Regions from separate parts of the Homo sapiens genome. Here region 2 is linked to region 1. Evidence: fine-mapped expression QTL. Tissue or cell type: sun-exposed skin. Region 1 holds a variant in brackets; the other region holds the start of a gene. All regions are shown on one strand. Distances are between the middles of the regions.

Region 1 (8,188 bases):
AAAAAGAAAGGTGTATTATTTACTTTTTTCTGAACAAATTCAGTTTCGACCAATTTTTCACTGTCTATAATATGCCGATAATATGCTATTTGACATTATTTGACATACTCTCTTCTAATTCTCATAACTCTTTGATGAAGTAACTATTGTTATTGCTATTTTATGGATGAATAAACTGAGACTCAGCCAAGCTCACTCAGCCAATCTCACCCAGCCAGTAAGCGCGGAGCAGGATCCCAGGCCCTGCTCTTTGAGTTCCAGACCCAGCATTCATGCCATCTCTAAATCCTGCTATTGTGCATTCATGATACCAAATTCCATGGGATCAGTGGAGCTTTAAATAGGACCAGACTTTTAAAAGGTGCCTTTGTACTGAAGTATAGCTTTGTCCTAAGAAAATGCTTTCTAAATAAAGGAATGAGCTATGTAAATATAATGGGAATTACCCAGGATTCTCTGACTCCAACTAAATTACAGAAACTTAGAGCTAAGACCTCTAAGGTCCTCTGTCTCTAGTACAGACTCCTTATTTGACAATGGATGAAACTGAGGCCTGGAGAGTAGAGTGATGCAGCCTGATGCATCCACATGGATGGTCAAGAACAGAGCCAGAACCAAAGAAAAGCTCTAAGTTTCTAGTCCAGCACAACACTTGGCGTAAAAGCATTATTACACTTTTGACAACGAGACATCTTCTACCCTAAAGACAGTGACATACATCAAATGTGTGCTATTTCTCTGACTATAACATACCTACAAGTGTTTACAAATCATAAATGTATACACACTTGCTCGAGTAAGTGCTTTCAATACTATTTTTCTTTTCAAAGTAAAAAAAAAATTATACGAACATCTAGTGAAAGTCTTTAACTGGAGGCTTTACCACTACTGAAGCTTCTTAAGCATTTTCCTTAGATGGTAAGGAATTATTTCAGTTAATATTTTAATAGCTACAATGAGCACATTCTCATCACAGAATAAGTTGCAATGACATAAACACACCTTCAAGTTACAGTCACTTCGGGCAAAAAAAAAATGTGTTCTGTGATGACTATTACAAAATACATTGAATATTAGTGTTAGCGTTGCTCAGTAACACTGATTAGAAACATGATTGCTATCACAAGTAAGAATTATGTTCACCTGAAATAATAATTTTTGTATTTTTGGAGGGCTGAACTAATTAAAAGTAATGGCAAAAATCACTTTTTCACCAACCTAATACAATAAGAAAAGGATCAGAACCTAAAGTCCTTTTAACATCTTCAGCTGTGGATGAGCTTAATTAAGCAAAATGCTATGACATGTCCATAACCTAAAAAGTTAGAGGGCATTTTGAACAATTACTGTCCTTCCCCTTCCTATATCATTCTTTCAGCAGTTGCATCAATCCAAGCCTGTCAAAACTCAACATAAAAAGAAAAAAGGCAGTAACACTGACTGCAGATCATATTCTTATTTTAAAATCATTCTGCTTTGCACCTAGTATGTGCTCACTAAGCATTTACTGATTCGGTTATTCATTGTTCCACTGCCAGAACAAGAAGTTGTCTGTACTAACAAGTCAAATATTCAGGAAGCTAGAGGACAGACATGCAGCGGTCATGTGTGGGTGTGTCCAAGTGAGATAACCTTTTGTGCTTTTGTGCATGTTTTACAGATAGTGGATGGTAAGATGACCAATGCTCAGATTATTCTTCTCATTGACAATGCCAGGATGGCAGTGGATGACTTCAACCTCAAGTAAGTTCCTTCTTCACAGGGTTGTTCGGGTTTTTGTTTGTTTGCTTTACAAAAGGAAAACTCGGCGGGGCGCGGTGGCTCACACCTGTAATCCCAGCACTTTGGGAGGCCAAGGCGGGCGGATCACGAGGTCAAGAGATCGAGACCATCCTGGCCAACATGGTGAAACCCCATCTCTACTAAAAATACAAAAATTAGCTGGGCATGGTGGCACACGCCTGTAGTCCCAGCTACTCGGGAGGCTGAGGCAGGAGAATCACTTGAACCCAGGAGGTGGAGGTTGCAGTGAGCCAAGATCACGCCACTAACACTCCAGCCTGGCAACAGAGTGAGACTCCATCTCAAAAAAAAAAAAAAAAAGGAAAACTCATCTTGCCATTACCCGCATCTAAAATCTTATAATGAAAAGGCATAGCAACGGCAAATGCACTGTGTGTTACTTGAATGAACCTTAGTTTAAACAAATCAGATATAAAGCACATTATAGTATGGGGAAGTTTGAATATGAATCAAGAATTAGATGATATTAAAGGGTTGTTATTAATGTTTAGGTGTAGTGTTATGTTTATTTTATTTATTTATTTATTTATTTATTTATTTGTTTATTTTTGAGACGGAGTCTTGCTCTGTTGCCAGGCTGTAGTGTAGTGGCGTGATCTCGGCTCACTGCAACCTCTGCCTTCCAGGTTCAAGCGATTCTCCTGCCTCAGCCTCCCAAGTAGCTGGGACTATAGGTGCACACCACCATGCCCAGCTAATTTTTGCATTTTTAGTAGCAACAGGGTTTCACCATGTTGGCCAGGATGGTCTCAATCTCTTGGCCTCGTGATCCGCCCGCCTCAGCCTCCCAAAGTACTGGGATTACAGGTGTGAGCCACCGTGCCCGGCCTGTTTATTTTAAAATATATTTTTCTTAAAAGATGCATCCTGAAGTATTTAGTCTTAAAATGTCATCACATCTATAATCTGCTTTAAAATACTTCAGCAATGAAATAGATGAAGCAAATATGGCAAAACATTCATGGTTGCTAAATATAGATAATGGGTATATGACTGTTTATTATCCTATTCTCCCTACTCAATTTAAAAGTTGACATTGAGTCACCATCATGGAGAAGTGTAGCATGAAACTGGCATAAAAAAGACATCCTATATGTATTCATTTGCTCTCTTTAAACCTAAAAAGTAAAAGATTCACCTCTAAATGAAAATGAATCCTTTCAAAAACCATGGCCTTCCAACAATGAGTGCACTCTTCTCTTCCTTCTCACCAAAGGTATGAAAATGAACACTCCTTTAAGAAAGACTTGGAAATTGAAGTCGAGGGCCTCCGAAGGACCTTAGACAACCTGACCATTGTCACAACAGACCTAGAACAGGAGGTGGAAGGAATGAGGAAAGAGCTCATTCTCATGAAGAAGCACCATGAGCAGGTACAACTCCCCAGGAACACCTGCTAATAAGCACAGCTCTTAGCCTGCACATCTCAGGCTGATTCGACAGCTACAGAAGAAACCACCACCTGGATGCCAATCCCCTTGTCCTTCACCCTAAATAGTCTTTAGAAAAACATACAAATATCTAATGTTTCTAATTTCAAGGTTAGCTAGTCACATGTCAAATACAACAACCAAAATGCAATCATAATTAATGATGAATTGGTCAACAGTTTTGTTAATACACAATGTTTACCTAGATGTGCTTGTTAATGTTACTATAAGAATCAATGCGTGAGACTGGACTTCCATCACTGGCCCAATGTTCAGCAAGTTAGGGGACAATATAATGAAGAGAGTCTGCTACCAACCAAGATAAGTGTGATGTGGGGCAAAAATAAAGAATCCTAATTTCCAGAAGCATTTAACTGACTTTTAGAGTTACCATCCATCACAAGTCCTCAAGACTCTGATAAAATGATAGAAAAACAGTTCCCATTTTAGGAAAACAAAATTGCTTCTCAACATCAAAGAGCTCAGTTTCTGAATAGCTGGTTAGACAATGATTGTTAATTAAACCTTTCCTGTGGCTGCTTGGTTTTCATGAAATCCTATGGGCGTCAGCCCTACAGTGTCACAAGGCATTGATGAGATTTTGAAAGCCTCTACACCTTCTTTCTGCTGTTTGCCTCTTGAACTGCTTCCCAAAAGCTTTGGCCTATAGCCTGTAAGGTTCAGCTGCTTAACTATGTTGTCACTTCACCAATCCACATCTGCTGAACAGGACTTTGCACACTATGGAAGCATAATTCTTTCTGAAATATTTTCAACCACGGATCAAGTCAGTAATCATGGAGGCTATTTGATTACCTGCCTTATGATATTCTTTTTTTTTTTTTTTTTTTTTTTGGAGACAGGGTCTCACTCTGTCACCCAGGCTGGAGTGCAGTGGCGCAATCTCGGCTCACTGCAGCCTCCACCTCGCAGGTTCAAGCGATTCTCCTGCCTCAGCCTCCCAAGTAGCTGGGATTAAAGGTGTGTACAACCACACCCAGTTAATTTTTTGTATTTTTAGTAGAGACAGGGTTTCTCCATGCTGGTCAGGTTGGTCTCAAAGATATTCTTTATTTTATAAAATTATTAGAGAAAAAAGTATACAATGTTTTATCACCAACAAGTAAGTAATATTTGAGAAACCAAACCAGTGACAGTGGGAGCAACCACATAATCGGAATGTTTAAAAGATCTATTTACCACTGCCAATCAACATGGCAATCCAGCCTTCTGATTGTCAAAGCCGGTTCATTTCCTTTCTCTGTTATTAAATAGGAAATGGAGAAGCATCATGTGCCAAGTGACTTCAATGTCAATGTGAAGGTGGATACAGGTCCCAGGGAAGATCTGATTAAGGTCCTGGAGGATATGAGACAAGAATATGAGCTTATAATAAAGAAGAAGCATCGAGACTTGGACACTTGGTATAAAGAACAGGTAAAAGAAAGATGCACA[A/C]ACTTCCCAAAGGTTGCATTTCCATGAGGTCCCAATGCTGACGCCTTTGCCTTGCTTGGTCCCACAGTCTGCAGCCATGTCCCAGGAGGCAGCCAGTCCAGCCACTGTGCAGAGCAGACAAGGTGACATCCACGAACTGAAGCGCACATTCCAGGCCCTGGAGATTGACCTGCAGACACAGTACAGCACGGTGAGTCAAGGCTAGGAAAACCGTGAATCCCACACCACCTCCTTCACGAAGCCTTCTGAGACCTCTCTCCCAGGCCCTGACCCTCAACTCCCTTGGGACAACTCTCACTTTCCACTTTCCATCCAAATTGTTTATGATGAGAACCATAATAAAGGGCTACCATGTATTGAGTGTCCCGATGGTGCCAGGCATTGTGCTAAGTAGTTCATGATATTAAATGTCATTAATCCTTACAGTAACCTTCCCAGATAGGTCTTAGTGTCCCCATTTTAGAGATGAGGAAACCAAAACTCCAACAGTAAAATAAATTGGCCAAGGTCACACAGCTAGTAAGTAACTGGTGATGAAACCATATGATTTATTTGGAGGAAGGGGGATTCTAGACCCCCATAATTTCTATCAGTGCCCTCTCCACTTACAACCAGGCTACCCCCCTCAAACCCCAATGTAGAGAAATTCCAGTGCCAACATGGTAGGTGGCAGATCCAGGCCTGGCTAACTCCAAAGCACTGCCCTATTCATTTATGTATATGTCTTATCACCCAGAAAACTCTAAGTTCTTGTGTCCAAGTCATTTCTATCATCTTCACAGTTTAGAAAAATGCTTAGCATGGTCATAAGCATTCAAAATTTATGAAGGTCTATCATTTGATTCCCAGTATACCCTATTGAGTCTTCTAATCATTCATCCATATAATTGCCAAGTGCGATTCTACCCTCAGTCTTGAGAGGCAATGATTTGTTCATTTATGTTGCAGGTGCACTTGGGTAAATGACTGCTGTGTTTTATGCATCCGTGATGGTGAACAGACACTGCAAATGTGCACGTAGAGATCATGAGTACAAAAATAATTATAGTGCAACTTTCAAAACGTTTTAACATACAGTATTTCACAATGGCCCTGTGAAACAGGCGAGGCATGTATACCCATTTTCATGCATTCTACTATCTGACACCAATCCTTAGCACTGAGGATTTTTTAATGAAGGAGTTTATATTCTAGTAGGAGTGACAGATAATAAATGTGCAAATCATCAAAATATATGTTAGATGGAGAAAATTGCTACAGAGATGAAGCAGAGGAGGAGGGCAGATGCACCAGGGTGAAGAGCTGCTATCTTAAACAAGGTGGTCAGGAAAGGTTTTCCTGTTAGAGTGGCAGTGAGCAAAGAGGTAAGGAGGTGCTTGATGTGGTGATGGGATGTGTTCCAAGAGGAGGGAACAGCAAGTGCAAAAGCGACAAGGCACAAGTGTGTCTGATGAGTTGGAGGAGCAGCAGGGAAGTCCATGTGGCTACAGTGAGTGAATGAAGGGAAGAAGAAAGGAGAGAAGAGGAGGGGAAGGGAGGGGAAGAGGGAGGAAGACAGGGTGAGGCCGCGGAGTCCCAACAGAACCAGACAGTGTAGGGCTTTGTAGGCTACCTTGGAGGGGTCTCAAGAGGAACAGCAGGCATAGACAACTCTTTGAGGAGCTTTGCTGTAGCTGAAGGAGAGCAGAGAAATTGGATGATAGCTGAAGGTAGATATGGGTTTAAGAAAGATATATTTTAAGGTAGGAAAAATTATTCTATTTGAAAGCTGGTGGGAATAATCCAGAGAGAATATTGATAACGCAAGAAGGCGGGCAACTGCCGAGATGACTGGAGCACAGACAGCTCACACAAAAGAACAGAGGGAAGCCAGCACCCAGATGCAGATTCAAGTATGTGCCTGGGAGCAATGTAGGGAGCAGTGGGCGGTCTCTCCCGATTGCTTTCATTTCATCAACAAAATTAGGAAGCGAGGCCATGGACTCCGAGGAAGGATGGCAAGGACAGAGGAGAGGGAACAAAATAACCTCCTGGGAGAGTAGGAGACTGGCTGACCAGGGAAATGTGCTTTAACCGCCAGGCAGCATGAACGGCCCCCTGAAAATTAGCAGCCACGATAAAGGGAGAGTATCCAGCACAGTTAGGAGATTCTCTTTAAGGTTAAAATTATGCGCTTCAGAAAAGCAGGTGTTACATGCAAACAGAACTGGGACTTGAACTCAATCCTCCATATTCTAGCCCAGAAACTTCATTTGGCAGCTGTTAGAATTTCCTCAAAAAATGACATTTTTTTTTTTTACCATCGTCATAATCAAAAAGCATTGCTTGAGACTAGGGTTGCCAGATTTACCAAATTAAAATATAGAATACTCAGTTTAGTTGGAATTTCAAATAAAAAGCAATTTTTTTTGCATGTCCCATGCAATACTGGAGCAATATTTTGGACATAGTTACACTAAAAAATTACTCATTACTCATCTGAAATTCAAATTTAACTAGATGTTCTCTATTTTATCTGGCATCCCTAATTGAGACCCTTCTCCGAAGATACAAAGAGATAGCAGTCCCAGTTGCTGTCGCTCTTTGGGAGTTTTCAATCAGGTCAAAGATAAAATGAAAGGAGTTAAACAACAGTTCAGAGCAAGGCAATGGACTTCAAAAGTCCTAACACTGCTCAACTCCTGACTGCCCAAGTCCCAAACCTGTAAGTCAGCCTACTTCTCATCTTGGTGTCCTCAGCAGCTACCAAGACACCTAGCCAACTGGTCGACATCTGCTAAGTACTCAACAATCACCTGTTATTGACTCAATCAAGCCATCAGTTAATTAACAGAAGATCATTTCCTCTTTCAGAAATCTGCTTTGGAAAACATGTTATCCGAGACCCAGTCTCGGTACTCCTGCAAGCTCCAGGACATGCAAGAGATCATCTCCCACTATGAGGAGGAACTGACGCAGCTACGCCATGAACTGGAGCGGCAGAACAATGAATACCAAGTGCTGCTGGGCATCAAAACCCACCTGGAGAAGGAAATCACCACGTACCGACGGCTCCTGGAGGGAGAGAGTGAAGGGTAAGGCAAAGGCTGGCACGAGAGGAGCATGCGAGGGACCTCCAGCTCCTGTGGGTATATGTGTGCATCTTTGGGTTCTGTTAGCAAGAGTCACTCTAGCAAGAGAAAAGTTGTGTTGAGCTACTCCAGAAGATACCTATAGCTGGCTGTATTTCACTAAGCAGCAAGTATAATTAATCAACTAATACTCACAGGACACTAAGATTTGCAGTCAGAAGAGTTAAAGTCTCTAGAAGGAAACAATTCAAAAGGATTTGGCCACTGTGTTTCCCAGTAGGAATGCACACAATTTTGGCTCCAAAAAAAAGAAGGCAGGGGGAATGTGTTAGTCCACCAGCAAAAGAGAAAAAAAAAAAAAGATGCATATGAGCTAGAGATGTCTAGACTTTCAATCTGATATTTCTGGCCACCCCAGGAAATAACAAC
Region 2 (8,188 bases), 38 kb before region 1:
CTTATCTCTAACCATGTCAAAGATGAGTTTTGCCTGTTCTTGAAGTTAATATAAATGTAGTCATACTGTTCGTACTGTTTTGTGCCTGACTTCTTCAGCTCAATATGTTTTTGAGATTTTTCCATGGTGTCATGAGTACCGGCAGTTCATTCTTTATTGTTGTTGCATACTACTCCATTACATAAACATGTCACAGTTTGTTGTCCATTATTCTGTTTATGAGCAGTTATTTTTATTTTAGTGCTATTAAGAATATAGCTGCTATAAGCATTCTTGTGCAAATATTATTGTGTGTATAAAATATATACATTCATCTCTCTTGGACATATACCTAACCATGAAATTGCTAGGTCCTTGGGGGAGGTCCTTTGTCAGAGAGAGAGAGAGAGAGAGAGAGAGATAGTATATTACTGTATAAATAAATATGTGTTTATTTATTTTTATACACATATTTATTTATAGAGTCATGTGCCACATAATGACATTTCAGTCAACAATGATGGAACATACACATACAAAAGCTGTCCCAAAAAACTATAATGTCATATTTTTATTGTACCTTTTCTATGTTTAAATGTGTTTCCAGATAACAAATACTTACCATTGTGTTACAGTTGCCTACTGTATTCAGTACAGTAACATGCTGTGCAGGTTTACAGCCTATGAGCAATAGACTATACCATATAGCCTAAGTGTGTTATAGGCTATACCATCCAGGTTCATGAAGTCCACTGTGATGTTTACACAACAACAAAATCACTAAAGGTGAATTTCTCAGAATATATTCCCATTGTTACAAAAGATATGACGTTGTGTATGTATGTGTTCTAATGTGTGCGTTGGGGGGTGGGTGTATGAAGAGAGAGAGAGAATATTTTAACCCAGGCTGTAGCTTGCCTTTTCACTTTCTTAGCTATTTATCTGATCAACAAAAGGTTTTCATTTTGATGAAGTCTAATCTATTTATTATAGTGTCCTCCATGAGCTTAGAAGTCTTCTCATGGCAGAAGGTTATGAATATAATCTTCTGAGTTTTCTTCTAAAAACTTTAGACTTGAAATCTTCACAATTAAGTGTTTAATCCAACCTGAATTAAGTTTTATACGTAGCGTGAGGTAGAGATCAAGATGTATTCATTTTGGCTATACAAGTATCCACTTGATTCAGCGACAAGTATTGAACAGTATTGAAAAAACAGTATTGAAAAAGCTTTCCTTTTCTCATTGACTTGCTTTGGGATCTTTGTCAGAAATCAATTGACCACATATATGTGAGTCTATTTCTAAACTCTATATTCTTTCTCATTGATCTACTTTCCAACCCTTATGCCAATATCACACTGTTTTAATTGTAGTAGCATTATAGTAACTTGCATGAATTTACATTTCATTGCCACAAGCAATGAGAGTGCTATAGGCAGTGAATGTATCTGTTATCAAACTTTGATTTTTTTCAGTTTGATAGGTGGAAAACTAAAATATCTCAGTATAATTTAAATTTACATTTCTCTTTTCATGAGTGACATTGAGCATTTTTTCTTATTTTAAGTGCCTTTTGTATTTTCCTTTTGGTCACTGTCTAGAGTGTAATTGTAATATTGTTTCCCAGTTTGTCATCTTGTCTTCTGGTTTTACAGGTTGTATTTTTCACCCAAGCACAAGTTCAAACACTGTTATTTTATGGAGTCAAATCTAACAGTTTTTTACGGCTTCTTAATTTTGAGTCATCATTGGAAAAGTCTTCTGACTCCAAATTTATAAAATAATTATCCTTTTGGGCATATTTATTATTTATTTTTCATATCTCAATCTTTGATCTACTTGTAATTCGTCCCACTGTAAAGGATGAAGTATGGTTTCAACATTCCCTGCCCCCACACCAAAGGGAATACAAAATTGTCCCCAAAGTACATATAATACATATAACGGTCTACCTTTTCCCCATGGCTTTTATTTTGTATTTTATTTTATTTTATTAAAAATGAAATCGCACTGTGTTGCCCACCTGAACTTGAACTCCTGGGTTCAAGTAATTCTTCTGCCTCAGCCTCCTACAGAATGGGAGAAAATTTTTGCAATCTGTCCATCTGACAAAGGGCTAATATACAGAATCTACAAGGAACTTAAACAAATTTACAAGAAAAAACAAACAACCCCATCAAAAAAATGGGCTAAGGATATAGAAAGACACTTCTCAAAAGAAGACATTTATGTGGCCAACAAACATATGAAAAAAGCTCATCATCACTGGTCACTAGAGAAATGCAAATCAAACCACAATGAGATACCATCTCACACCAGTTAGAATGACAATCATTAAAAAGTCAGGAAACAACAGATGCTGGAGAGGATGGAGAGAAATTGGAACACTTTTACACAGTTGGTGGGAGTGTAAATTAGTTCAACCAATGCAGAAGACAGTGTGGCAATTTCTTAAGGATCAAGAACCATAAATACAGTTTGACCCAGCAATCCTATTACTTGATACATACCCAAAGGATTATAAATCATTCTACTATAAAGACACATGCACATGTATGTTTATTGCAGCACTATTCACAATAGCAAAGACATGGAACCAACCCAAATGCCCATCAATGATGGACTGGATAAAGAAAATGTGGCACATATACACCATGGAATACTATACAGCCATAATAAAGGATTAGTTCATGTCCTTTGCAGGGACATGAATAAAGCTGGAAACCATCATTCTCAGCAAACTCACACAGGAACAGAAAACCAAACACTGCATGTTCTCACTCATAAGTGGGAGTTGAACAATGAGCACACATGGACACAGGGAGGGGAACATCACACCGGGGACTGTGAGGGGGTGAGGGGCTAGGGGTGGGATAGCATTAGGAGAAATACCTAATGTAGATGACAGGTTGATGGGTACAGCAAACCACCATGGCACTTGTATACCTATGTAGCAAACCTGCACGTTCTGCACATGTATCCCAGAACTCAAAGTACAAAAAATCTCATAATTCAAGAAAAAAAAAAAAGGATGAAAAGGGGCCACTAGCTGAGGATGTGGACAGCCTGTAGAAGCTGGAAAAGGCAAGAAAATGATGTTCCCCTAGAGCCTCCATAAAGGATTAGCAGCAAGTAACTTTCTGAAGAAAATGCTGAGTAAGTATTCCTCAGAAAGAAAACACACCCCTTTCAATGAATCCTATTTAAACATCCAGTATAAACCAACACTGTGATACATTTTTATCTAATGTAATACCACAAGCAAACACCAAGCACTAAAAATGTTATAAAATGTGGACTTTGGAAAACCAAAAGAGAGCTAGTCTCTTTTCCAAGAAATTTCTTATTAGCAATCAAACCCTACCTTTTCCCCATGGCTTTTATTTTATTTCATATTTTATTTATATTTTATTTTATGTTATTACATTTTATGGAAAGCTAAAACATAAATCTAGCAATTATCTTTAAAACAAGACTTTTAAAAGACTAACATTTTAATTCATACTCACATTGTCCTGACACTGAAAATGGGGAAACCATTTGGGCAGAACAAACTAAAATATTGACTTCTGATTTCTAAGTTTACCAATAATTATTAAACATTAATAGTTTCCCTTTTCTAGAGAAGAAAGGAAAAGAAGGATGAACTCATTCCTGGTTAAGCTCAGTGCCAAGTGGAGAGGTCAACAAGAATGTAATGAACTTAGTATACTCACACCTGCTTAATAATGGATGCTGTTAGGACAGTTCCTTTTGAAGACATAATTTGAAGCTCTGGGTCCAATAGACAAGTAGTAGTTATGATGGGTAATAACTTACTAACAGCCTAAATGCACATGTTTATGAGACAAATAACTCTTCTTAAGCAAGTAAAAAGCAGACTAATAAGATGTTCCTACAGGATTTGATATAAACCTGAGAAAGGAAAACATCCCACCTGTGTGACACCACGTAGAAGAGAGGCTATATAAGCACTTCAAAGAGGAAAACACCAAGAGCCTTGGAATTCAGACTCTGTGGAGGTGGCTTGAGCTTTTCATCCTGGTGACCACAGACCTGGAACAAACTAAAGCCAGACACATACTATGGACACCAAGGGCTGTACAACAACCAATTCTCCTTCAACCCCATGTCAAAACTGCTCTAGGATTACAAATGTTAGTACCATCTCTTCTAACAACGGCTGCCATCCTGGTGGCCTTACAGTCAACAACTGTCAACCAGCTGGCCACGTTCTCAGAATTCCCTGGGACCAGGGCTGCCAACCCACTCCTCGCTTTTGTCGCAAGCCCATCTACCTAATGAACAACTTCAATGCCCGTTTTTCTCTGGATGACTGCAGCTGGTATGGTGAAGGCATCAACAGTAATGAGAAGGAGACCATGCAAATCTTGAACGAGCGCCTTGCTAACTACCTGCAAAAGGTGCGAATGCTAGAACGAGAGAATGCTGAACTGGAATCTAAAATCCAGGAAGAAAGTAACAAAGAGCTCCCTGTTCTATGTCCTGATTACCTGTCTTACTACACTACCATTGAGGAGCTCCAGCAGAAGGTAAGATTCCTAAGAACCTGTTTAATCGTGTTGTGAATTAATGGTTTCCAAGCAACAGTTATTTGCTAAACTTTAATATTTTTTGTTCAGTTGATGCTGAAAATTTTTTTGAAGAATAGAAAAATTTCTTGAGTGAAATTGTCATCTTGAGGCAGCATTCAGAGTCTGATAGTATTTCTGGTCAGGCGCAGTGATGCACACCTGTAATCCTAACACTTTGGGAGGCTGAGGCAGACAGATCACTTGAGCCCAGGAGTTCTAGACCATCCTGGGCAACATGATGAAATTCCATCCTTACACACACACACACACACACACACATACACACACAAAAAAAAATTAGATGGGCGTGGTGGCACATGCCTGTGGTCCCAGCTACTTGGGAGGCTGAGGTGGGAGGATCACTTGAGCCCAAGAGGTTGAGGCTGCCATGAGCCAAGATCCTGCCACTGCACTCCAGCCCAGACAAAAGTGAGACTATGTCTTTAAAAATCAGAAACAAAAAGAAGAGTCTCATGGTGTTTCCTTTCTCCAGAAATACACTCTACCATTATAACTAGATGACTCAGGACCAAAAGATGTTAACAGCAAGTTGTTGCCATTTTTTAAATAAAAATAGGGAAACAGAGATCAGAGAAAATAAATTTTGCTTTAATGAGTTTCTAAGCAATTTAGTTTTTATCCATTTTTCAACCATCACCACCTTTTTCTCCTTTTATGCTTATGTTATCATCTCCACATTGCTTGGTTTGTTTCTACACCAAACCTAAGTTTGTTATGCACAGACGTATTCTGCTACTACATATCTGGATTTATTCAGTTTTATTCATTCAACAAATGTTTACTGAGCAGCAACAACATTGGGCCAAACATTGTTCTAGATTCTGGGAAAATATTGGTGACCTTTAAAAAGTCCCTGCCCTCATGGAGTTGACATTCTAGTGGATCATGGTATTTATATAAATTTAGGATGGATTTTATTTTATTTTTTATTTATTTATTTATGTATTTATTGAGATGGAGTCTCACTCTGTCACCAGGCTGGAGTGCAATGGCGCGATCTCTGCTCACTGCAACCTCCAGCTCCCAGGTTCAAGCGATTCTCCCTCCTCTGCCTCTCTAGTAGCTGGGTCTACAGGCACGCACCACCACACCCAGATAATTTTTGTATTTTTTTTTTTTTTTGAGACGGAGTCTCGCTCTGTCTCCCAGGCTGCAGTGCAGTGGCGCGATCTCGGCTCACTGCTAGCTCCGCTTCCTGGGTTCATGCCATTCTCCTGCCTCAGCCTCCCAAGTAGCTGGGACTACAGGCGCCCGCCACCACGCCCAGCTAATTTTTTTTTTTTTTATATTTTTAGTAGAGACGGGGTTTCACCGTGTTAGCCAGGATGGTCTTGATCTCCTGACCTCGTGATCTACCCGCCTCGGCCTCCCAAAGTGCTGGGATTACAGGCGTGAGCCACTGCGCCCGGCCAATTTTTGTATTTTTTAGTAGAGACAGGGTTTCACCATGTTGGCCAGGATGGTCTTGATCTCTTGACCTCGTGATCCGCCCGCCTCAGCCTCCCAAGTGCTGATATTACATGGGTGAGCCACTGCTCTCAGCCTGGATTTTTTAACAACAACAACAAAAAAAATACTTAAAAGTTTCTAGTTAAGTACTTTTTGCTGATCTTTTAGGAAAATAACAGGAAATCTGACTTTCTGAAGTTTTCCAAGCTTTGTGAGCATAGCTATGAAGATTAATAAAAAGTCTACTTAGCCTTCCCCTGTTACTTGACACACACACAAACCCCTTGGTTCTTAAAGAAGGAAATCTTGGTGTTTGCTTCATTTGTGTGTACAATCTCTTAATTCTAGATCTTGTGTACCAAGGCCGAGAATTCCAGACTGGTCTCGCAAATTGACAACACCAAACTGACTGCAGATGACTTGAGAGCCAAGTAAGCCCACCCAACACCGTCATCAATGACAGAGCTCACCCTGAGTCTGACCGAGATGCCCTCAACAAAATTGTCCCCATGTCTACTAACCCTCTTGCCCCAGATGATGTTGGCACAAGCCCAGAAAAGACTTTCAAATTCAATGAATGATTAAGATTAATAACTGCTCACATGTATACAGTACCTATAGTTTCTAACTTGTGAACCCATTTGATTACCTACACAATAGTTCAGTAAAATAGATAGGACTAATATATTGTTACTCTCTTTAAGGTGAGAAATCTGTGGCTTAGTGAGGCTAAGTTACTCACCCAAAGGTAAGCATAACTAGCACAAGTCAAAACCGAAACTTGGACACATGTTTTCTGAGCCCTAATCCAGTGCTTTCTTCACTTACATTGCATTGCCACTAGGGGCAGAGGAAGGACAATAAATTCCCATATCTCAAAGAACAGCAATGTAGATCCCCCTAGCAAACTAATTTGGGAATAATAATTAAGTTATGATCTATATCAAATGGTTTCACCTCCAAAGAGAATAAAACTTCTAATAGAAATACACTAAGTGAGGTGCCCAGAGCAAAATGCAGATGAGAGTTCTGCTTGGCTTGGTTTGCATCATCTCCTTTCAGATGTCTCTCTTTTCCCATCTGGTTTTTAAAGATACGAAGCTGAGGTGTCTCTACGCCAGCTGGTAGAGTCAGATGCCAATGGCCTCAAGCAGATCCTGAATGTGCTGACCCTGGGCAAGGCCGACCTAGAGGCACAAGTCCAGTCTCTGAAAGAGGAGCTCCTTTGCCTCAAGAACAACCACAAAGAGGTGAGACAAAGACCAATAGAGTAATCACAAGCTAAGTCCCTAAAAGTAGCATCAGTTCCTTTGAGTTGCACCTGACAAAGGGTGTGCCCGCTTGTATTAGTTCGTTCTCACACTGCTATAAAGAAATAACTGAGAGTAGGTAATTTATAAAGGACAGAAGTGTAACTGAGTCACAGTTCCACATGGCTGGGGAGGCCTCAGGAAACTTACAATCATGGCTTAAGGGGAAGCAGGCACATCTCACTTGGCAGCAGGAGACAGAGAGAGACCAAAGGGGGAAGAGCCCTTTATAAAACTATCAGATCTTGTGAGAACTCACTCACTATCCTAAGAACAGCATGGGGGACACCACCCCCATGATCCAATCTCCTCCCACTAGGTCCCTCCCTTGACACATGGGAATTATGGGAATTACAATTCGAGATGAGATTTGGGTGGGGACACAGAGCCAAACCACTGCTACGTACTACTCTGGTTTAGCCCTGAAAATACCTACTGCTACTAGCACTGGTTCAAGGTAGTATTTCAAATCCACTGGCTCCAACACAATATCTGGAGCCATAAGGGGAAGAAAGGCCTCCAACATCCCCTCCAGCTTTTCTACAAGAAGGAACCCAATTTTTCTGTCCTTACAGTCTTCCCATGTTTGTAGGCATCCCTATACAGGCTTCTGCCACCTCCCATTGGTACAAGTCAATATTGGTGCAAGTCAATATTGGCACAATCCCGTATTTGCACCATAGAGACTATAATCTCTCATGATCAATTCCACCTTTATCCTGTTTCACCCATTATCCAGCCCTGGAAATGATCTAAATTTTTTGGAACTCTGGTCTTGCTACTCATTTTTTTTTAATTTTGCACACATTTAAACACACAGTCCTACCTGAAA

Direction of the effects. Alleles are on the strand shown, and positions count from the first base shown. SD is a standard deviation of normalised expression in the study named.
For the expression in sun-exposed skin of the gene that starts at base 3,975 in region 2, allele C in region 1 goes with a lower level than allele A (small effect, 0.31 SD a copy in GTEx).

Evidence for each region. PIP is the estimated chance that this variant, and not a neighbour inherited with it, causes the effect.
Region 2: it holds the start of KRT39, and the variant in region 1 is fine-mapped to the expression of KRT39 in sun-exposed skin (GTEx, PIP 0.98).

What each region holds. Positions count from the first base shown.
Region 1 is chr17:40,924,928-40,933,115 of GRCh38, reverse strand. It overlaps KRT23 (keratin 23), which reads left to right. Exons shown (of 9, transcript NM_015515.5): 3 at 1,661-1,743; 4 at 3,020-3,176; 5 at 4,509-4,670; 6 at 4,756-4,878; 7 at 7,542-7,762. It overlaps LOC107985072 (a long non-coding RNA gene), which reads right to left and starts at 4,513. Exons shown (of 4, transcript XR_001752886.2): 1 at 4,434-4,513. The variant A/C (reference allele first, on the strand shown) is at 4,689.
Region 2 is chr17:40,962,735-40,970,922 of GRCh38, reverse strand. KRT39 (keratin 39) reads left to right here and starts at 3,975. Exons shown (of 7, transcript NM_213656.4): 1 at 3,975-4,534; 2 at 6,395-6,477; 3 at 7,140-7,296. The coding sequence starts at 4,067. The region is part of intron 1 of LOC107985072 (a long non-coding RNA gene); the gene reads right to left.